7 separate regions of the Homo sapiens genome follow, and all the other regions are reported to be linked to region 1. Evidence: microRNA targets listed by miRTarBase, many of them from high-throughput screens and not tested one by one. Region 1 holds a microRNA gene; each other region holds the end of a gene's coding sequence.

Region 1 (3,084 bases):
ACTCTGCTTCCTGCGTTCAAGGGATTCTCCTGCCTCAGCCTCCTGAATAGCTGGGATTACAGGCGTGCACCACCACGCCCGGCTAATTTTTTATATTTTTAGTAGAGATGGGGTTTCGCCATGTTGGCCAGGCTGGTCTCAAACTCCTGACCTCAGGTGATCTGCCCGCCTTGGCCTCCCAAAGTGCTGGGATTACAGGTGTGAGCCACCGCGCCCGGCCGACATTGTCTGTTTTAAGGGAGGTATTCCTCAGCTCTTCGGTGATAAACTGCTGATGTATTGCACTGCCTGACAGTCACCAAGTTGGAACATGATAAATACTGCAGATGTGTAAGGCACAAAATGAGACTTATACAAAGTAGAGATGGAATCGCAAGAATTCCCAGGCCCTCTTTTTATTTACAGTGATACCAAACCATCCACTTGCAAATTCTTTGGTCTCCCATCAGCTGGAATTAAGTAGGTACTGTGTATCTTTGAGATCATGTATTTGTCTCCACTTTGGTGGATACAAGAAAGGAAGGCACGAACAGCTGAAAAAGAAGGGTATCACACCGCTCCAGCTGGAATCCAGCAGGAACCTCTGAGCATGCCACAGCTGAACACTTAAAAGAGGAAAGAAGGACAGCTGCTCTTCATTTATTTTGAAAGCAAATTCATTTGAAAGTGCATAAATGGTCATCATAAGTCAAACGTATCAATTAGACCTTCAACCTAGGAAACAAAATTTTTTTTTTCTATTTAATAATACACCACACTGAAATTATTTGCCAATGAATCCCAAAGATTTGGTACAAATAGTACAATTCGTATTTGCTTTCCTCTTTCCTTTCTTCAGACAAACACCAAATAAAATGCAGGTGAAAGAGATGAACCACGACTAGAGGCTGACTTAGAAATTTATGCTGACTCGATCTAAAAAAAATTATGTTGGTTAATGTTAATCTATCTAAAATAGAGCATTTTGGGAATGCTTTTCAAAGAAGGTCAAGTAACAGTCATACAGCTAGAAAAGTCCCTGAAAAAAAGAATTGTTAAGAAGTATAATAACCTTTTCAAAACCCACAATGCAGCTTAGTTTTCCTTTATTTATTTGTGGTCATGAAGACTATCCCCATTTCTCCATAAAATCCTCCCTCCATACTGCTGCATTATGGCACAAAAGACTCTAAGTGCCACCAGACAGAAGGACCAGAGTTTCTGATTATAAACAATGATGCTGGGTAATGTTTAAATGAGAACATTGGATATGGATGGTCAGATGAAAGATACCAAAATGTCAGACAGCCCATCGACTGGTGTTGCCATGAGATTCAACAGTCAACATCAGTCTGATAAGCTACCCGACAAGGTGGTACAGCCATGGAGATGTCACGATGGTAGGCAAAACAAGCAGACAGTCAGGCAGGATTTGATAAAAAAACAAAAACAAAAACAAACCAAAAAAACCCAGGCATTTCTGGCCTGTTAAGATCGAACCCCAATTCTATTCTATTCTGACATAATGCTCATAATGCTCCTAAAGGAAAAAAGTAAAATTGTTTATTTTCCTCCCAAGCAAAACAAAATGAACAAGTTCAATCAAAAACATCCCAATGGAAAAAAATCACACTAAGAATAAAACACTTACAGAACGGCAAGAAAACTGGGTTAACATATAAATTTGTGTCTGTTGAAACCAGAGTACATGCTAGAAAACATTAACACAGATACGACAGAGTGTGGTTTTTTTTTAGAAATGGGTAATTTCTCTCTCCAGTATCCTTTCACTTGTATGAGATATTTCTCCTCTCCTGTTTTCACAAACCAAGAAATCCCCAGGTAGGCCAATCCCAGAGGTGCCATTTAGCAGTATGCAGCAGCCCAGTTTCAGCATAACAAAACATGCCTTGGTAGTGGCTCTCTCATGCAAATAAAAGAAAGCTTAAGAAATTCTTGTTGTAGGTGGATTAGGCAAGGCTGCCATTCAGCTGGTATAAGCTAAAAGTAAAAAATCAAAACGCTCAAGAAAACGGACACAATTTTGGAATGATTAAAGATGTCTTTATAAAGTTTTTTTCAAGACTTCATTCTAAATACACAGAATAAAAAATGGTGTCAGCTCACTTGTAAGACACCAACCAGATTTTCCTTATACTGTCTCAAAATTTAAAGATCAATTTCCCCAGAGGGTGTGCAATGCATCATAAAATGGCCCTTTTTTGAGGATGGGAGAGGAAGGGTTGGGCAGGATGGAATATTAAATTGTAACATGATAAACATGCAAGACTGTTATCCAATCTAGATAATTTATATACATTTTGATGACTTAGGAAAACAAAGCAATCATTTGTGACAAGCCTAAAAAGCTTGACATATTTAACATACTTAGGAACTTTTTTTGTGCGGTGGGAATTCTCTAATTGTATCATGTGGGCCTTTTGAAAGTAACAAACAGAAGGCCAGTCTGTTGCAAGTTTGCTGCTGAACATCACATTCCACCCTAAGAAAACACAAGGTGGATTGCATCGAGGGTGGATACCTTACCTTAGCACAGAAGGAAAAAGTATGTCAGTGCAAAGTATGGACTAAACTGCTTTCAGGAAAAAAGTTGTAAAAATTGATACAGGTTGGAAAAGGGAATTTTCCTTCCCGGCTTGGAGTCCTCCCAATTTAAGGCAGAACCCATCCACTCCAATTTCTGCAGTTTAAAACTTTCTCTACTTATTTAGTTTTCTCCTCTGAGTTCAACCGCTGCTGGATTCGTTTGGCATAACTTTGTGCCATGGAGTTAATGATAGATAGGATGAAGTAACACACCATGACAACGACCAACTTTTCAAACATCCAGGACAACCAGTTTTCTCCCTGTAGAAATAAATGCAGAACAATGCAATGAAAAAGGCTTCATTAGTTCAGTAGTAAAAAGAGGATCATCTATAATGCTTGAAGTGTGTAACTTACAAAACCTAAAGAATTAAAAATGAAAAGTAAGCAACCCCAACTACTCTGAAATCTCCATTACTCTCCTTTTTACACCCAACTATCAAGATTTCACTTTGTTGGATGTAAAATCAGTGTTGAATCACATAGTTTAGAATGGGA
Region 2 (3,084 bases), not on the chromosome of region 1:
CAAATACCAACTTCAGACTATGAGTGAGCAATGTCTTTTGGAATATTTCATTGGTGTATCACAGGCACAGTGCATGTATACTCATGCACACATAAAGGACAATTTTCTCTTTCTGCATCTATAATCTGCAACTTAAAAATATATCAAATAGGTCAACATTGACGCTATGGAGGTGTGAGGAGAACTCCTTGGCACCAGCATGACTAAAACCGCTTTTTAGACCATTAAAGAACATTCATGGCCAAAGACTTCAGAACTATGGTTACCTTTTTTTTTTGAGATGGAGTCTCGCTCTGTCACCCAGGCTGGAGTGCAGTGATGTGATCTTGGCTCACTGCAACCTCTGCCTCCTGAGAAACTGGGACTACAGGTATGTGCCACCATGCCCGGCTCCTTTTTGTATTTTTAGCAGAGACAGGGTTTCACCATGTTGGTCAGGCTGGTCTCAAACTCCTGACCTCATGATCTGCCCACCTCGGCCTCCCAAAGTGCTGGGATTACAGGTGTGAGCCACTGCACCTGGCAGCTATTTTGTTTTCTACTCTGATTTCTGAAATGGTGAAACAATCCTATTAATCATAATTTTTTTTTAATTTCAGCAGAGCTCTGTTACAGATATGAAAACAAAATGTGACACAATGAAGAAGCTGCATAAAAATACTGAAACCTAAGGTATCTGTAGTATATAGGATGTACCCTGGCTTACCATAGAAAAGTCTTTAGATAGTAAATAGCACTAAGTCTAAAAGCAAGGAGATAAGATTTCATGTTGGATACTGTTTCAAGAACTGTATTTGGAATATTAAAGGAAATCCTTATGTTAGTAAGTTTAAAAAACCAAACATCATATACAAAATAAAATTTTAGTATGATAAAACCTAGCTTTTCTTATTTTTTAAAAGGACATCAAACTATATAATTGCTCAAGAGCAAAGTTTAGTGTTTTGGTGAGCTGTATTTCATGTTACTTGTAGCAATTATATTTGGTGACATGGATCGCATTTTCCATTTTGCTCTTTCTTTTGGGACCATATCTAATCAACAGAAGTACTGGAAGCCCAATGAGTCACCGCAGAATTAATTGCTGGAGTCAGGCAAATGGCAGTTTAGGAGCTTCAGTAAAAGAATTGTAGTGTTTTTTACAAGAGAAAATCCAGTATAATTGCACATTTACATACAAAAAAAAGAGGCACAAAACAGATTTTCACCCTCTTTCCATAGAAGAGCTCTAAATTGATAAGCAAATGGAACACTCAATACAGCTGAAGGAATGTGGTAGAGCATCTACCCTCCCTACCTTCATAAGGTTACTAGGTACTTGAGGGAAAATAAATGCTACCAGGTACCAGCAATTGTAAGCAGTCAAAATTCACAGAGAAAGTTAACATTCATTCAAGCTAACCCTAGACTTCTACTTAGTACAGTGTTACAACAATGTCTGACATTACTAATTATTTTCATACAAGGAATACTGGAATATACATATTCCTAAGCATTAAAAGCAAGTGAGTTTGGTGAGCAGACATCTTGGTATACTCGCATCTATAAGAGTCAAGCATCACCATCAACCATTTTTGCTAACACTGACTTTCTTGGGAGTTTTCTCCAAGTGCTTCCTAAGATGAAGTGTGTTTGTGTGGCTCTTATGCACCCTGTAAAAGTAGAAGTTCTTCCCCTTACTCAATGGGAGCAATCTTAAGTACTGGATAATAATAGAAATTCTTTACATGTAACCTGGGGATGCCCCTACTACTTTCACCCCCCAAATTAGGAACTCAACCAAAAAGATCTATTCAAATACAATTCAAACTCACTTGTGTGGTTTTACCAGGAAACATGACTGAATGGTCAGATGACAAAAGAAATGTTTGAGTAGGAGAGGAAAACAGAGACAAAAAATAAAATGCCTGTAATTCTCTCCAATTAAGACCAGGGTCTACAATAAAATTGGACAGAAAATGGTGCTTATATGATCCAAATTTTGGTTTATGCCTTCATCCCCCTTTAGCTGCCTTAATCAGTGTCAGGAAAATAGGAGTGACCATTCCAACTATGCTTCATATCCACAGAAACGCACTTCATCCAAAACCCAAACCATCCATGTCAATGGAAAACGTTTTAAAAATCAGTGAGCACATCCATTCCTTTTTTTCCTTCCACCAAGGAAACACACCATATACCCTTCTAGGTAAAGTTACCATAGTACAAAGCCCACCTTGTTTAAGACCACAGAGGTAAAATCCACCGAGGCATTGTTTTCAAGAGGCCAGATTTAATACTTCCATAGAGCCCTTCTCTAAGCCTATGAAAAGCATTTTGAAGGGAAAGAGAAGTGAGCCTACCTACTGCTCAGTAAAGAGGTATATAAAGCTTATCATACCCTTTCCTAGAGGGCTTTCTCAGATTCCTACTTAAAACACACACACACTTGATTAGACTATTGAACTACACTTCTTGAAATTCCTAAAAATGAAAATAAATAAAGGAATGATGGCTACTTTTGCTTTATACAACCAAGGAACACATCTTAGACTTTAAATTTATCTCATTAACAAAACTTACTTTTCTCTTTGTTCTTATTTTAACAGCAAAAACATTTCTTTTTCAAGCTGCAATGGCACTGAAGCACAATAAAAGGCAAGAAAAGACCAAGGGAATTTAACCCTCCACAAAAGAATCCCAAACCAACCAAATCAAACAAAAACCAGACACCACCAACTGCTTCTGCCTGCATGAACTGGTTTCCCATTTTTGCTTTAATAAGGCAGTTCCGATGGCAAAGGCTGTATGCACTGTAGCAGTCTCTTCTTTTTAAATGCATGATCTATTTGCTTTTTTCACTTAAATAGAAAGGAGGGGACACCACACATTTATTCTTTTACTTCTTCTCCATGATCTTGTGATTCCCATTTACATTTTATCTTGCTCCAGTATTCTGGTGACACAGGAGCCATGGGGTCATGTTCCGAGCAGCAGAGGCGGCCTTCCAGTGCAGAGGGAACCAGGGCCCCCTTTTCATGATCTTTACAAAATGAATGTGGACAGAATTCACAGAAGGAAACAGCTGCACTGCTGCACTCATCG
Region 3 (3,084 bases), not on the chromosome of region 1:
TACTTTTTTTAATGCAGCTTTCAAAACGTCCTAGTTGCCGTCACTCACCCCAGCCCACCCCACTGCTTGAAAGTTGAGCCATGTGATGTTTCTAGTGCCCCATGATCTCTTCTGATGTGTGTTTGGTTTTGATGCTGAGCAGTCATGTTTTATAGTCTGGGTTTTGTTTCTCTCCTAAATCCACCATCTCCTTGTTCTGCCGGCCAATTCTCACCTCTCTATTTTCTCATCCTCCTTTTCCTTCCCCTGGTATAGATCAAAGTGGTCAAAGCGTTCCATAGTTCCCTCCACGAAAGCATTCAGAAACCCTACAACCAAAAGTCCATCCACAGCTTCATGACCCACCCTGAATTCGCCATAGAGGAGGAGTTGCCACGAACACCACTCCTGGATGAGGAAGAGGAGGAAAATCCTGACAAGGCTTCTAAGTTTGGGACTAGGGTGCTCCTGTTGGATGGTGAGGTCACTCCATATGCCAATACAAACAACAATGCGGTGGATTGCAACCAAGTGCAGCTCCCCCAGTCGGACAGCTCTCTACAGAGCCTAGAGACATCAGTTTGAATTTTCTTTCTCTGACTCTCATCCCTATTTTACCTATTTCCATTTTCGTCTATCCCATCTATGAGGTGATGATGGGACTTTTCATTGTCACGTCAGCTGCTGTGTTAACAGCAGTGTGTGTGAAGTGAACCTCTACCTGACCATGAAGAGGCAAGAGCACAGACTTACAAGGATTTCAACTTAAGCTTGACTTGGGGTTTGTAGCGGGACCCAGTCAAACCCCATTCAGGTCATGGTAGAATCTACTCCTTGGTAGTCACTTGTCATTTTTAAAGAAATGATGACAATCCTCTTGGCATCACCCCACCCCACATTCTCCCCGATGTTCCTCTCCTGAATTCTGGATTTTGTCCTACAAGTCTGTGCCATTTATAAGCTAAGTTGAGGGTTCAGAGGGAGACAAATATCCCCAAGTGAAATATGTTGCGGTAGAGATGGAATGTATAAAATCCGCCAGTAGTGTGATTGTTTTTCAATTTTTCCCACTTTGAAAACTTACACCTAAAGGCCTGTAGGCCTCTAACTCTTTCTGCCCTTTCATTCAAACCTCTCCAAAGTTCTTTGTCTTTTGTCTTCCCTTCCTTTCCTTTTTTTTTTTTTTTTTTATGATGATTAAGAAAATGGAAAGGATATGGATGAATTGTGTAAACTTAGATCCTTCTCCCTTTTGGCCCAAAAGAACCCTTGATTTAGTTCCAGAATCCAACCAGTTTCTTTGTTAAAAGGGTCCTTTTGAAGCAATTAAGTGCTGGTAAGAATATTTCTCTGTTGTTGCCAGGTTACCTTCTGCTTTTAAATTGCCATCTTGTAAAGTGTATGTGGTTCTTAAGTGCCAGGGAGATCAGCCTTGCCCATGAAGGTTGCATATGTGTGGTATACAGTTTTTACCTGAAAGCCTGAGCTTTCTCTTATTCCTAAAGTGGTGGCAAAAGAATGAACTGGGTATGACCCTGCCCCCTTACTGGGCTTGGATATTGAGGACCAGACGCTGCCAAATCTAGGACAAGACAGACCATCAAAGCAGACTTTTGTGGGCTCCTCTTTGGGGTGACCACTGCTTTCAAAGCCATCTGCCAAGGCTCTCCAGGGCAGGACCTGACTGGTGGGGAATGAGTGTTCAGAAGCCTTGGGAGAGGCCAAAGAGCCATTCTAGCATGATCTGAGAAAACCTTCCTGCAGAGGCCAGAAACCTTGAGCTTAGGTGCCTGGGGACCAGCTTCGACATTCTCTCCAGTTTCTGATTCTAATTTTTGCCACGTGTCACAACTTTTCCAGTCTCTGAGAAGGTCCCAGCCTTTCTCAAATATTCTGATTTTGAAAATATGTATCCAAAGTGGGAGGCCCCTGTGACATTTTGCCAACTTAAACGAGAAAAAGACCCCCCGCACCCGGCACACTCCCCCTTCCTCCAGCCCCGCTTCAGCCACATGCTCCAGCTGCTGCCCAGTAAAGCCCTGTGCCTTTTTTTCCCCTGAATACTGCCCAAAGCATCCCCTTCCCATCTGCCTCTCAGGAGTTGGGGACTTTGCTAGGAGATTTTTTAAGTGTTCCTTACTGGGACAACGTGGAGCCACGTTTGCAGGAGCTCCATTTGTATCCCTGCTGGTGTTGACTTCTGTGTAGGGGCCAGTTCATGTCCCTGACTCTCACCTCCCATTAGATAAATGAAGCCCACCCCCCTTTCTAGAGTGATGAGAGTCAAGAAGAGGGGATGTATGAACGGCCAAATTCCCATGTGAGAGGAAGATGACCTGATCCACCTAGCCTTTTCTTCTGGATCTGTCCTCCCTCACCCCTTTCACCTGAGCTGTCCACAGTAGGAAACATAAAGAAACAATGTCCCCTACATATCCCCATGACTACATAATCCATCATCGTAGGAAATAGGAAAGCAAATTTGATTTTGGTTTTGTAAAACGTACATGCTTCAATAATTCTTTTTTGTGTCTTAAATACTCATAGGGGAAAAAAACAGCTCACCCAAGGTGTTAGGTTTCACATATATATTCATCAACTATTTTAGAAGATTTAATTCTATCAAATCTTGTATTACCTCAGATCATTTTAAATAGCAAGCCAATAACGAGCTTTGAAGGCTATTTTACCATTCCTGTTCACAAAAGGTTCTCATGGTGCCTGACAGGTTACCCTTGAGGGCTTGTGTCTACTTTTTAAAAGTCAATGGTTTTTTTTCTTGTGTTCTAGTTTCCATAATAGGAGAGAAAATATAGAAATATATGCAAAAATTATAGTTTTCTTTAGATCAGAAACTGATATTTTTGGGTCAGCCATATGTATTTTGTTTAAAGGATTTAAAATAAAGTGCCGTCATGTAGCCCTGTGGAAGGGAGCACATAACCAGCTGTTTGGCATGACAGGTGACTTAGTATATTTGTAATTGGTTTTAAAACCAATACACCATACTTTCTTTCTGCAAACAGCCATCTTTATACTTAGGGAAGAAAAATTGTTGGGTTCTAGACTTTTTTAATATAAATTTTGTTGATATGGAATTAGGTA
Region 4 (3,084 bases), not on the chromosome of region 1:
CACAAATTCCAGTTTCACTACTGCATTACCTTGGGCAACCCCTAGAAGCTTCAGTTTCATTTATTAAATGGGGAGAAAAACAGTGCCTAGCCCAAGAATGGTTATGACTGAAATCAAGTAGGAAAAGTGTGTCATGCAGTGTCTGGCTCAGAATAGATGCTCAGTAAATTTGAGATGGCAGGAGGAGTAGCATTTTCAACCTTTAATTCGCCAGTTCTTCAAGCATTATTTTTAATTCATAGTACAAAATAAAAATTATCTTACTTTTATATTACTAGCTTAGGTCACCAAATTATGTCACATTTCTAAGAAATCTGTGGAACTTCTAGGCTAGTTCTTAATGGATATCGTATTTTTTCCTCCAAATAGAATAGTTCTTACTGCTTTTAATAAGTTGAAGTAAGCATATAGTAGCACTACAGAATATTGCAGAATGACATAATGTTTTGGAAAAATATAGAAATCACTTATAAATGTTATTGTTCCGGCATTTTAAAAGCATGTTTTTCTTTTTTTTCCCCCTTTAGATTATGTTGAAATACAAAGATAAGAAGTGGTACCAGTTCTGACAACCAGAATCCAATAAGTCCAACTTCAGCCAGAAGGAAAAAAGTTTTCCATTTTTATTACATTCTTTAGGAAAGTTAACGTTAAAGGGATGTTCGTCACTGAATACTGTTCTTTCCTAGCACAGTCATGCACTGTTTTACCTCAGTCATGTGGCTTTAACTGAGGAGTGTTCACACGCACTCGAAATGGAGTATATGGTGTGTGCCAGTTATGAGTTGACCATTTGGGAATTAAACAGGTCACACGTGACAGATGAAGAAACCAAGGGGGCTGCTGAGGAGACCTGGTGCAGGGACTAATCCTGGATCATTCCTGTATTAAACTTTCATATGCCAAAAGGGTTTGTGCCGTTTTATCTGCCATCAGTGTTTGACCTGTTTAGGGCAGAGGCAATAAGTCAGAAGTCTTGAAGTTGAAATAGTTATATGTGTGTCATTGGACTGGATTATAAACAGCTGTCTTGGACTTTCCCTCTCTTAACACTGACTGGTCATCAGTATCATTAGTGAAAAAGAAACAAATTGTTTGTTATCATCTCTTTAGACAGATAAGCTGAATGGTGGGCTTTAAATAATAAAAACATACACATAGTTGACTTGTGTATGAGCTACTCTTGGATTCTTGTTATTATAGACTTGTATTTAGTTCATATTTTGTCAAAAGCAAAACAAGAAGATACATCACTTTTCATTGAAAAGAAAAGTGTAGAGCATGACTGAATTGCTCATCATTCTGGGAGTTTCCATGTAGTGGCTATGCAGTGTGGAAAGTGAGAAAAACCTCCATTGTGGTGAGGAGAATACTTCAATGTCCCTTGTCCTTGTTCTCATTAATTCAGCTAAAGGTGGATTTGACCAAAATAATGCTGGTTAAATTTGTAGAAATGTTGAAATTGGCTGTGTTTTAAATTTTGCTTGAATTTTTATAAAATGTTTAACCAAATGTACCTTTGCATTCTTTAATTAAAATTGCTTAAAAAAAAACTTTCATTATTTCAGTAAAATGCTCAGCTCCCTTTTCAAAATGCCCTTTATTTGCTAACTGTTCCAATACACTCAGGTGATGAGCCAATTAAATGTTAGTGCACATGCTATCGCATGGAAAATTACAAGCATCTGTTGTCAATAATTATATAAGAGTTTAGTCTGATGACCTACAAAATATTTTGTGTAGAAATATACTATAAATCTGTACATATCCTTTCAAGGTTTTAAAAAACCAAAAAGAAAGGAAAATATGTACACTGTGATAACTAAATTATTTCTGTATTGGAATATAATACAATTTGAGACCAGCAATGGACAATGAATGATTGTTTCATAGAATAGCATTACGGGCAGGAAAGAAACCACCTAGTAGATCTAGAAGTAAGCAATCTCAGAATACAGACTAATCTGAGATTATTATTGATTGTTGTTAAAGCAACCCAGCAAAAGCAAAATGGAAGCATTAAAATTAATGTTAATGAAATTTAAATATTGTCTTCTATAAAAAATTCCTTTAAATGATTTTGTTTTTTCATTAAGAGATAATCAGAGCACAAATTGATAGTAAACAGGATGGTTGTTTTTCTATTCTATATGATCATTAAAGGAATATGTAGGACATCTTAACTTTTTCATACAGTCTGTTATGCATATTTTCCTCTACTTTTCATTAATAAAGCTTTTATGTTTACATTTTATAACATGCACTACTAGATGCAAAAGTTTACATCAAAGTTTACTTTAAATATCATTTGGTAGGGACTAAATGTGTGTGATAGAGATAATTGATCAAGCCAAAAGAAATATTTTTTAAATAAGCCCTTTTCAAAAGTTTTTGAATTTATAGAAAGCACCAATGAATAACATATTTCTGTTTCGTTAATGTCAGCTGCCTGAACATTCAGCAGTTTATAAATTGCTTAATTTGTGTTATCTATTATCCAGTAAACCCATAGTTCCATGATATGTCACAGGAATTGTTAGGTCCTATTTTAAAGGTACAGTTTTGTGAATGTCATCAATAAAATCAACAGTTATGGATTTGAAGAAGTTGGGAAAGCATTATGTAGATTAATATACTGGTTGGTTCCCTATCTATGTGGAAGGTCATATTAGCTGCAATTATTTAATTTGCTGTGTTATTTTGTGTTATATAACACAAATATATTTGTATATTAACTTCATTTTTACTGTCATTTTTCCTGTTGTATACAAAATGAACTAATCTTGTAATTATTTTCAAATATAGAAGTATATACATTAGATGGATTTCCAAGATTTTGTAAGAAAATCTTAAATCAGTGTTTTGAGTTATTTAATTTTTAAATTAATCTACAAATTATGCACAACAAACTAGAGACTCAGTTAGGATTAGAAAGCTTAAAGTATGTTTGAGTGTAGGAAATAAGCTTCTCAGAGTTATACTTGATTCTGTCTGTAGATAAGAGACAGTCTACAGTAATAACTAACCCAGGGAATTTACTGTAATTTGAGAGGTAACATCTCTATTTTTTTCTTTTTAAATACA
Region 5 (3,084 bases), not on the chromosome of region 1:
ATGTCCTACTACACCGTGATTGCCAAATATCTATTCATCTCTGTATCTACCACTATCTCTATCAAGAACTGTGCACACAGCACACATTCAACACACACCAGATTACTTTACTGACATTCTTTTCTTCAACCTGACGATCTTTGATCTGATACATCCCCAGAAACTGGTGCTTTCAAAGCCAAATCCTCCAAACTGACTCCATGTCCTAAACAATTTCTACTTCTCCACCAACTGTACCATTAATTACCTTTTGTTCTCTTGTTTAATTCAAGATCAAGGAGGTATGCAAGCAGAGAATCCCAGCACGGATCCCTAAACCGAAATCTACAGGCATCACCAAGATTTCCACTAAAGCCCCCACAGTGCCTATGGATAAGCCTATTTACCAAAATGGCTGTGGGAAGCTACACATCGTGAGAACTGTCACCTCCAACACCTTCCTCCACGTGGGAGGGAGAAGGTAACTCATACCAATGCACTGCCTGGATACATTCATCTACAGAAATATGTGGAAAGCTAAAATTACCACTATGAAAGGCCAAAGGACCATCTCTCCAGGAAATGGTGAAGCAGCTTTGTGGACCTGATGAAGATCATCCCCCAAAAAGCAGCACGTCTACAATTATTTTACTTCTATATGTGTATATGCACACACAAACACTCGCAGGCCTAGACCCACACCCAAATCTACCCATTTCCTCATCCGACATATAATCTAACCCAAAGATGAACTATCTAGAATCAGCCTGGGATAGGACTGAATTCACTAGAACAGTTCAAGAGTTTTCTGGTGAAAACAGAAGTAATTCTTCATTCTACAGAACTTTGCTGATTAATCATATTTTGCTAAGAAAAGGTGATAGCAAAAATTCCTAATCTGAGTCAAGAAAATCAGATTATTTCCATCAAGATGACAGGACAATTAAAATCACACTTTAAGGTCTAAAACTATGATTTCTTTATGACCAGGAGGGAAAAAGCAAAGTGATAATTCTTAAAGGAGGAAAAGCATAACAAAAGTGAATAACAGCCGAATATATCCTTTGTGCAGAATACCTGACAATCACTGGTGTAGTAAGCATACCTGACCACTGGCACTTAGTCTCAGTAACATTGAGATATTTTAGGGAGACATGAATCAATATTCCAGGTGCTTGAAAAAATACAGAATTTATCATCTCACAGGACATTGTTTATTCATATCTCTTCTCTGAATAAACACTATCGAAAATCAGTTGATTCAACAAAAGCTTGGGGTTAGGAGACTCAAATTCCAATCCTAGATTTTCATTCATGTGACAACGAGCTTTGCATTCATCAATCTAAGCCTTGAGTTTCCACATGTAAAACAGGAAAGTGAAATAATTCCTCAGGTCCCTTCCAGTTCTGATAACCTATGAATATGCCCAACTATTAATACAAAATGTTGAATTCAAACAGTCATCTATAAGGGTAGACACAGTCCCCTGGCAGAAAGCTAAAGCAATTCTTTACATCACACTGAAAACTCTCTCATTGAATTGAGAGAAAGGTGTGCCTGTAATTCAGTGTGGACAGAGTAATACAGGACATTTTAAGACAAGGCATGTTTGACACAAAAGGCAGTTCAAAAAACATTTCAAAAAGCTTCAATCGAGGGGGGAAAAAAATCAATGGAACGACACTAAACATTTTTTGTGATCCTTCACTAAAAACTGGAAGCATGACCCTGGAAGAAATCCTCATGGTTAAGGACTGCTTTAGCCAGCTGCCCTGGGTTGGAGCCAGCAGAGCAAGAGTAAAGGAACTCCCATTCCCCATACTTATCTAACTAAGTCCACCTCATTGCACTAATGCCACTGTACAAACACCCCCAGGCCCCTGCAATTTCAAGGAGGAGAAGGAGCTAGAGGCCTGGGCAGCATTGAAAGGGATGATGGGCAGCATTGAGAGGGATGATGGGCAGCATTGAGAGGGATGATAGGCAGCATTGAGAGGGATGATGGGCAGCAGTCCCAGCAGGCAAGTGGCAGAGGGCAGTAGGGGGAGGTCAAGTGAATTAAAAGCCTGAAATGGAAAAGTCGAAGTGAAAGGAAAGCAGGAAGAGAATAGTAGAAGGGGATGGACTACAAAAGAAGGTGAAGACTGGGCATGGTGGCTCACGCCAGTAACCCCAGCACTTTGGGAGGCTGAGGTGAGAGGATTTCTTGAGGCCAGGAGCTCAAGACCAGTCTGGGCAACTTGGCAAGACCTTGTCTCTCCGAAAAGAAAAAAAAAAAAAAAAGCCAGGTGTGGTGGTGCACACCTGTAGTCCTAGCTAATTAGGAGGAAGAGGCAAGAGGACTGTTTGAGCCCAGAAGTCCGAGGCTGCAGTGAGCATGATCACACCACTGCACTCCAGACTGACTGACAGAGCAAGACCTTGTTTGTGGGGAAAAAAAAAAAAAAGGGTGCAGTGATGAAGCTCTAACATCAAAAAAAAAAAAATACACGTATGTACAGAGTGCTTAGTATTGTGCCTCACATAGAGCAGGTATTTGATAAATCTAGAGTGAATAGAGAATGAGTAAATGAAGAAGAGAAGGCCATTCAGTCAAGACATTTTCTCACTTGAGAAAACATGCTAAGAGATAGCAATGGTATGACAGGGTTAGGAAAAGTAGTTATGCCCAGGTGACATTCAACATTGGTAATTATGCTAATAGAAAAAAAACCCATTGGAATCCCTTAGTGAAAACCAAACAGGTTGAAAAGAAGCATAAAACAGGAAAAACAACATGCACTAACAATAGTCCCAGAAAAACAAAATACCTTGGGAAAAATTTTACTCTGAAATGAAGCACAAAATACGTTGTATGTTGAAGCTTTCAAAATTGTTTTCTCCCATGTCAGGAGACTTCCTAAAGTACATTTTTATCCAAGCTAGCATAAGTTTAAGAGGAAGCACAAAAAGAGGGACAAGATAGTATACAAAGTACTAAAAAATTTAGGTAGAAGCCAGGCACGGTGGCTCACGCCTGTAATCCCAGCACTTTGGGAGTCCGAGGCGGTGGATCACCTGAGGTTGGGAGTTCGAGACCAGCTTCACCAACGTGGAGAAACCTC
Region 6 (3,084 bases), not on the chromosome of region 1:
AGCTTCAGTTTTCTCATTTTACACAAATATAACAGACAGTGCTCTTGAATGGAACAAAAAAAATCAAGTTTGAATTTCATATCAGTTTAATAGCCTGAGCTGGGTAATGGTCTTACTCTGATCCTGGGGAATGTACAGATGTAGAATGAATGAAAACCAGTACATGAACTGCATTGTATTATTTTTGATCCTGGAAGTTTTAAATGTTTTTTCTCTATGATGTTCTATGGTTGCTATTGCCAGACTTGATACATTTTCTTCTTTTATAAAGGATTCTTAGTTTATAGTCATGTAAGTGTACCTATAAATCCCACCTGGTTTTCCTAGAACTAACTTATTTTGGTGATTTTGTTCTCTTAGCTGTGGAAAATTAAATCATAAGCTGAGTAAATGCCTGGACTCTCCCCTGGCTGGTATCAAAACTTACCTATCAAGGAAAGTGATGACTGCAGAAACCAGTGAGATACCCACCTGCTTGTTCACATGCACAGGTGCTCTCAGCTCTGCCAAAGCGAATGAATGGTGTTTCCGGAGGAGCAAGTCCTTTTCCAACTGGGTGTGCATGCTAAAAACCTGTATTTTCATGCTTTTCAAACAACATGAATAGTCAGCTGACTAAAGACTGTGTGTGTTGTGGTAACACAAAGACAATTTTGTAAGTTTGCGCTTCAGTACTGTGACAGTTATGTTTACTGGACATAGTCTTTTGGGCAACTATGATAGATGCCCAAAGCATGAAGCAAATATCTTTTATTGGAAATATGCAAATTCAATACTTTTCCATTATAGTCTATAGAACTGGAGATTTCATTTCTCTATCAAAGAGAGATCAAGCGAACTATTTTAGGTTAAATCCGAATAAAAGAACTTTACTGGAGACTTTCAGTTTCTAGGTTTTCTTTGTTGTTGAAGGAAGAAAATTAACTTTTAAACTGTGAGTTTCTGTTAAACTGTGGAGAAATGTTTTGTTCGTTTACGATTTTGGGTTAATAACTGTATAGTTGTTGGCAAACGATGCATGCATACAATATGCCATGTAATTCAGCATGAAAAATTTAAGTATATGCCTACTCATCCATTTCCATCATACAACATGGTTTCCACGTTCTATGTGGAAGCCATGGAAGCATTGTTTCCATATAGATCATCTGAGTTGTGGTTCCTAACACAGTGCTATGTGTCCTATCACAAGCATCATTGATAGTTTATCAGTTGTGCAACTTAATGTATTAAACCCTCCGTACATTTTCAGGTCCTCAGTGTCTATAATCGGCCATGCCATGCCTCTGATGATACAGGTTCTGTAATGCAGCATCCTGTTATACACATGCATATACATATGTTAATGAAAGCTCTAATAGTCTACTTATAATTCTTGCTCATTAAGTTACCTGCTTTGAAGAATCTCTCTTTTTTTTTTTTTTTTTTTTTTTTTTGAGGCAGAGTCTCACTTTGTTGCCCAGGCTAGAGTGCAGTGGCACCATCTTGGCTCACTGCAACCTCTGCCTCCTGGGTTCAAGTGATTCTCCTGCCTCAGCCTCCCGAGTAGCTGGGATTACAGGTGCCCGCCACCACACCTGGCTAATTTGCAAGAATCTCTTTGAGGCAAATTGAAAGCTTGAACATTTTAATGATAAGGTTTTGTGAAGTTTTAAATAAACATAATTTAGAAACTTGGTTATTACATGTAAAGCATGTATTCATTTAAAATCAGAGGATCAGTTGCACATTTTCTAATAAGCAGGAATATTTGTGAGGTTTAGAGGTGGATCTCTGAAGAGTCCAGGGATTGAGGTCAGACCTTTCTGGGTTCAAATCTTTGGCCCTGCCACATATTAGCTCTTTGTATATCAATTTTCTCACTTGTTAACCCATTTATGGGGATAATAACTACAAGTGGGGATAATAACTACATAATAAGGTTGTTAAGATTAAATGAGGTTGTCATGTAAGGTACTTGCACAGTGTAAAGTATTTAGTACTCAGCAAATCTACAATAAATGTGTTACTACTATTTAAAGTCCTTAAAAAAAATCTCACTGATAATTCCTAACTGTGAAGATAGAAACATGGAAAGCAAGGTTGCTGAACTAGAAGTTGATTACCAAAAATATGCAGCCTTTTATACATGAGTTATAATTTTTTAAATGGCAAAACTCCATTATAGTGATAAACCTTTAGAAGGCAGTGTTCTGTAGAAGCACTTCAGCATCTCAACAGATGGTTCATAGAAACCATGCTTTTACTGTTTCCATAGGGAACAGTAGCAGTGATCTCAAATCCAAAATTGAGCTCACTGCAGATTTCAAATGAAAACTGATGCCTTCATCTTTTTCTTCTACAAAAATGCTGTTCTATTTTTATGTACAACTTTTACACAGTTAATTCTTAGTTTAAAAGCAGTGTTTAGAGTATATTAATTCAATTGTGTGGATTGCTTCAGTTGTGGTTTTGATGGTGTATATTGGTTTAAATTATTTTTCAGGTGGGTAAAATTATGTGTAAGTATAGTTAATCATATCAGAAACTTAGGAATGATTCTTGACTCATTTTTCTTCCTCATACCTCACATCCAATCAATCACTGAGTCTTTGAATAATTATCTTCTAGATATCTTTCTCATCAGTCCACTCTTCTTCCTCCCCACTGCCACTGCTCTTATTTAAGTCAGCATCCTTTGTTTTTTGAGCAAGTTTCTGCTATCTCTGCTCTTATGTATGCTTGATTCCTCTTTCCCCCACACCTAACCCACTCATCTCAAAAATGTAATATGTCTTTTCTGAAATGTAAGTCTCATCATTTAGAATCCATCAGTGGCTTACTAGCACTTTGAAGATAAAAATCCAAAATCCTTTTAGCAAGGTGTGTAGGCCTACCCTATTGAGAAAGATTTTAAATCTTTATGTTTGAAAGATACTTTTGCTGGGTATAAAATTCTAGGTTTAAAGATGTGGTTGTGCTGTTACCTCCTGGGTTGTTGCATTGTTTCTGACAAGAAGTCTACAGTCACTCTAATCTTTGCTCCTCTGTATGTTAAGTGTCTTTTTTCTTTCTTTTTTTTTTTAAAAACTCTGGCTACTTTTA
Region 7 (3,084 bases), not on the chromosome of region 1:
ACTAGACAACCGATTGTGTATGCAAGAGTATGGCAACGACAGCAGGGAGAGGGAGTTAAGAGAGAGAAAGGGGGCTGGACATGGTGGCACACACCTATAATCCCAGCACTTTGGGAGGCTGAGGCAGGAGGATTGCTTGAGGCCAGAGATCGAGGCTGCAGTGAGCTATGAGAGCACCACTGCACTCCAGCCTGGGCAACAAAGCGAGACCCTGTCTCAAAAATAATACAAAATGATAAAAAGAGAAAGAGGAGGGCAGGCTGGAATAATTGGTCTCACATCCAGATGCTGACTGGCCACCTGCCACGTGCCTGGCACACACCCTAGGCACGGGTAGATTCATGGGGAGAGAAGCACAAAAAAGTCCTGGAATGATAGGAAAGATTTGGCTAAAAGGAGTCTTGGGAACAAGAATGAGTTTCTTGGGAACAACAGGTGGACCAATGCTGGGAGGGCAAACTGCATGAAAACAGGAAAAAGCTAGCCAGGCAGGCTGTCTTTAAAGAAGTTGTAACAAATCACACCAGGTGCTGCAATAACTTTCTCCTCCCTAGATTTTCAGAGCATGGTCTTTCTTCATGAAACCAGAGTTGGCAACTGAGGAACCAGGGACCCAAGAGTACTCCTAAGCCCACCTGCAGAGATTTTTACTTCTGGTACTCAGTTATCTTTGCAGTAATTTAGTATACCAAGCTGGTGCCAAAATTTTATGACAAAAGGTTATTCCTGTTTTTGAATGAAATTTGCTCATGGGCACTGGGCCAAGGAAATTTGAGAAGAAAAAAATTCAAGAAAGTGAAAAGTAAATTTAAAACATCCTAATAAAAAAATTTCAACTGGCCTTTAACTGACATAAAAATCATTTTTGGCAATGTGATTGACTTTTCAATCAAGAAAAGTAACTAAAAATTATAACAACATGGAGTGATGGAAATAATTGTACTGTATCAGTGTTTCCAAACGTTTGCACTTTGTAACACAGCACAGGAAATGATGCTATTTCATGCTGTTGGTTCAGCACATTGGGTAACTAGATGAAGCTCCTCCAGGCTAGAGGCAGCCAGCTGGAACCTTGCCCCAGCGCTAGGCCCCAGCCAGTGGTCACTCTGAAAGCTCAGCAGAATCCATCTCTGCCCGTCTGCAACCAACCTGCAACCCACTTGTGGCACCCCAGTGTGTCCAAGCAGACTGGCTGGGAACTGATGTTGATACTTCATCTTTTTTTTTTTTTGAGACGGAGTCTAGCTGTGTCGCCCAGGCTGGAGTGCAGTGGTGCGATCTCAGCTCACTGCCAGCTCTGCCTCCTGGGTTCACGCCATTCTCCTGCCTCAGCCTCCCAAGTAGCTGGGATTACAGGCACCTGCCACCACGCCTGGCTAATTTTTTGTATTTTTAGTAGAGACAGGGTTTCACCGTGTTAGCCAGGATGGTCTTGATCTCCTGACCTCGTGATCCGCCCGCCTCGGCCTCCCAAAGTGCTGGGATTACAGGCGTGAGCCACAGCGCCTGGTGATAATTCATCATTTTTTAAAAGTACTTTTATAAAGATCACTGATTGCTGAGACCGGTAATATTCTTTGTTTATAGTAGTAATATCATTTGGAATAGCGTGTTTAAGAGTAATAAATACAGTCTCTTGGACACGGGACTCACTTATCAGTTCATACTACAATAAAATCATTTTGGAAAATATACTACTAATAATATATTTCACCAAAAAACAATATTACAATTTTCTTTAAAATTATACCAATTATGACTCATACAATAGCAACACCTAGAAAACATTTTGTCTGACGTCATAAAATGAGTGCAGATATAAAAGAATCAACAGCAGATAATGCACCTAATTCATGGATTAAAGACAAAGATTAAAAAGGAAAGAAGAGTTTGTCATTTTACATATCAGAGGAAATATAATAAGTTAAGTCTACAATAATCTGGGTTGAATGCATCACACTTACACATTGAAAATTTATCAGACTGACTTTCTGTGGCTATACACCATACACAGTATAGTAAAGTAACCCTCAGGAAGGACATTAGTCTTTAAAATCTTGGCTTTAAGGAATGACAAATGTCTTTGAAAATATTTTGTTCAGTCACTGTGATTATAAAAGTACTTCAATTAAGAAATCCATCTATAATCAATCTTAAATGGCAGTGCATTTGAAAAATGGCATTGGTTTGTAATGTTTGCATTTCCAAAGAAAAATATAGAAAGAACTTAAAAAAGCAAGGAAACTGGTTTTCAAAAAAAGTATCGATTCAAAAATCTACTGCACAAAAATATGTACTTCTTAAGTGTTTCTAATAAATTAATTCCATAACATTTTTATGTATATTTATATATTTATATATATAATCCCTGATAATCTATAAAAGAGGGTCTATAATAGTAAAATAAGTGAACCTCAAAAGTACCCCCTTCATAAAATGTATGTAACATTAGTTTTTCTCAAATTTAAAGAATGTAACAATATGTACAACTCTTATGTATTAGTATAATACCAAAATAGTACAAGTCATATTAACAGGCTGTCATAATTGAAAAATGTTTGAGTCAAGTTAAAATCTGAGGACAGCTTAGTTTCAAACAAATACAATTATTATGGGAGATTCACTTTCCAAGTGGAAATGACAATCGTCTTATCTACAGTAGACTTCACAAGAGGTAGTGTTCAAGTAGAAATAAAAAAAAGATACATGCTTAACTATCTTTAATTAACAAATTCACAGGAAAAAATGTGTTGGTTTCTCAGATGATCAGTTGGTGGCTTTTTTAATATGAATCTGAAATACAAAATCATAAAAGGTATGATAAAGCTGTTAATTCTCAATTCCAAAAAGGCCTTAAATACAAAATAAAAACATAATAAAAATGTAGTTTCTAAGTTGTTTCACTGATTTGATATATGCTTACCTCATTAAGAATGGCCCAAACAGCAGAATTCTGAATAACTGAAAGTCGAAAGGCTGAAATGGGATTGAGACTTGGATCCACCATTCCTTCTGCAACACCATTCTCAAATTTTCCTTCAAAATAAAAATCAATACTTGTTGGATACACCGAGATAAGCAAAC

The links. Region 1 holds the annotated microRNA hsa-miR-21-5p (UAGCUUAUCAGACUGAUGUUGA, at 1,321-1,342, opposite strand). A microRNA usually pairs through its seed, bases 2 to 8, with sites in the 3' UTR of a target mRNA and lowers its output. Matches are read on the target gene's strand: a 7mer-m8 pairs with bases 2 to 8, a 7mer-A1 pairs with bases 2 to 7 and ends in A, and an 8mer does both.
Region 2: the mRNA of NSD3 is a reported target of hsa-miR-21-5p. Seed matches in the 3' UTR shown: 7mer-m8 at 2,369-2,375.
Region 3: the mRNA of ATP2B4 is a reported target of hsa-miR-21-5p. Seed matches in the 3' UTR shown: 8mer at 936-943.
Region 4: miRTarBase lists STXBP5 as a target of hsa-miR-21-5p. Seed matches in the 3' UTR shown: 7mer-m8 at 1,118-1,124 and 7mer-m8 at 2,961-2,967.
Region 5: miRTarBase lists FILIP1L as a target of hsa-miR-21-5p. The part of its 3' UTR that is shown has no 7-base or 8-base seed match.
Region 6: the mRNA of PHTF1 is a reported target of hsa-miR-21-5p. The part of its 3' UTR that is shown has no 7-base or 8-base seed match.
Region 7: the mRNA of MGAT4A is a reported target of hsa-miR-21-5p. The part of its 3' UTR that is shown has no 7-base or 8-base seed match.

The regions. Positions count from the first base shown.
Region 1 is chr17:59,839,531-59,842,614 of GRCh38, reverse strand. MIR21 (microRNA 21) reads right to left here and starts at 1,349; the gene lies at 1,278-1,349. VMP1 (vacuole membrane protein 1) reads right to left here. Exons shown (of 12, transcript NM_030938.5): 12 at 360-2,847. The coding sequence ends at 2,704. RefSeq lists a silencer at 94-288 and enhancers at 1,574-2,303, 3,027-3,084.
Region 2 is chr8:38,272,771-38,275,854 of GRCh38, forward strand. NSD3 (nuclear receptor binding SET domain protein 3) reads right to left here. Exons shown (of 24, transcript NM_023034.2): 24 at 1-3,084. The coding sequence ends at 2,871. It also overlaps a transcript of DDHD2 not described here. Among named protein-coding and RNA genes, the nearest start is that of PLPP5, 5.1 kb to the left of the region's middle.
Region 3 is chr1:203,739,291-203,742,374 of GRCh38, forward strand. It overlaps ATP2B4 (ATPase plasma membrane Ca2+ transporting 4), which reads left to right. Exons shown (of 21, transcript NM_001684.5): 21 at 256-3,084. The coding sequence ends at 564. The region is part of intron 1 of LOC102723543 (a long non-coding RNA gene); the gene reads right to left. Among named protein-coding and RNA genes, the nearest start is that of LINC00260, 10 kb to the left of the region's middle.
Region 4 is chr6:147,384,187-147,387,270 of GRCh38, forward strand. STXBP5 (syntaxin binding protein 5) reads left to right here. Exons shown (of 28, transcript NM_001127715.4): 28 at 528-3,084. The coding sequence ends at 569. Among named protein-coding and RNA genes, the nearest start is that of SAMD5, 120 kb to the right of the region's middle.
Region 5 is chr3:99,827,794-99,830,877 of GRCh38, reverse strand. It overlaps FILIP1L (filamin A interacting protein 1 like), which reads left to right. Exons shown (of 6, transcript NM_001387850.1): 6 at 273-2,067. The coding sequence ends at 464. All of the region lies in intron 1 of CMSS1 (cms1 ribosomal small subunit homolog), which reads right to left. The region is part of intron 1 of LOC105374010 (a long non-coding RNA gene); the gene reads right to left. Among named protein-coding and RNA genes, the nearest start is that of HP09053, 5.5 kb to the right of the region's middle.
Region 6 is chr1:113,695,002-113,698,085 of GRCh38, reverse strand. It overlaps PHTF1 (putative homeodomain transcription factor 1), which reads left to right. Exons shown (of 19, transcript NM_001323043.2): 19 at 361-1,255. The coding sequence ends at 381. Among named protein-coding and RNA genes, the nearest start is that of PHTF1, 63 kb to the left of the region's middle.
Region 7 is chr2:98,622,800-98,625,883 of GRCh38, forward strand. It overlaps MGAT4A (alpha-1,3-mannosyl-glycoprotein 4-beta-N-acetylglucosaminyltransferase A), which reads right to left. Exons shown (of 16, transcript NM_012214.3): 15 at 2,924-3,036; 16 at 1-2,793. The coding sequence ends at 2,767. Among named protein-coding and RNA genes, the nearest start is that of UNC50, 16 kb to the left of the region's middle.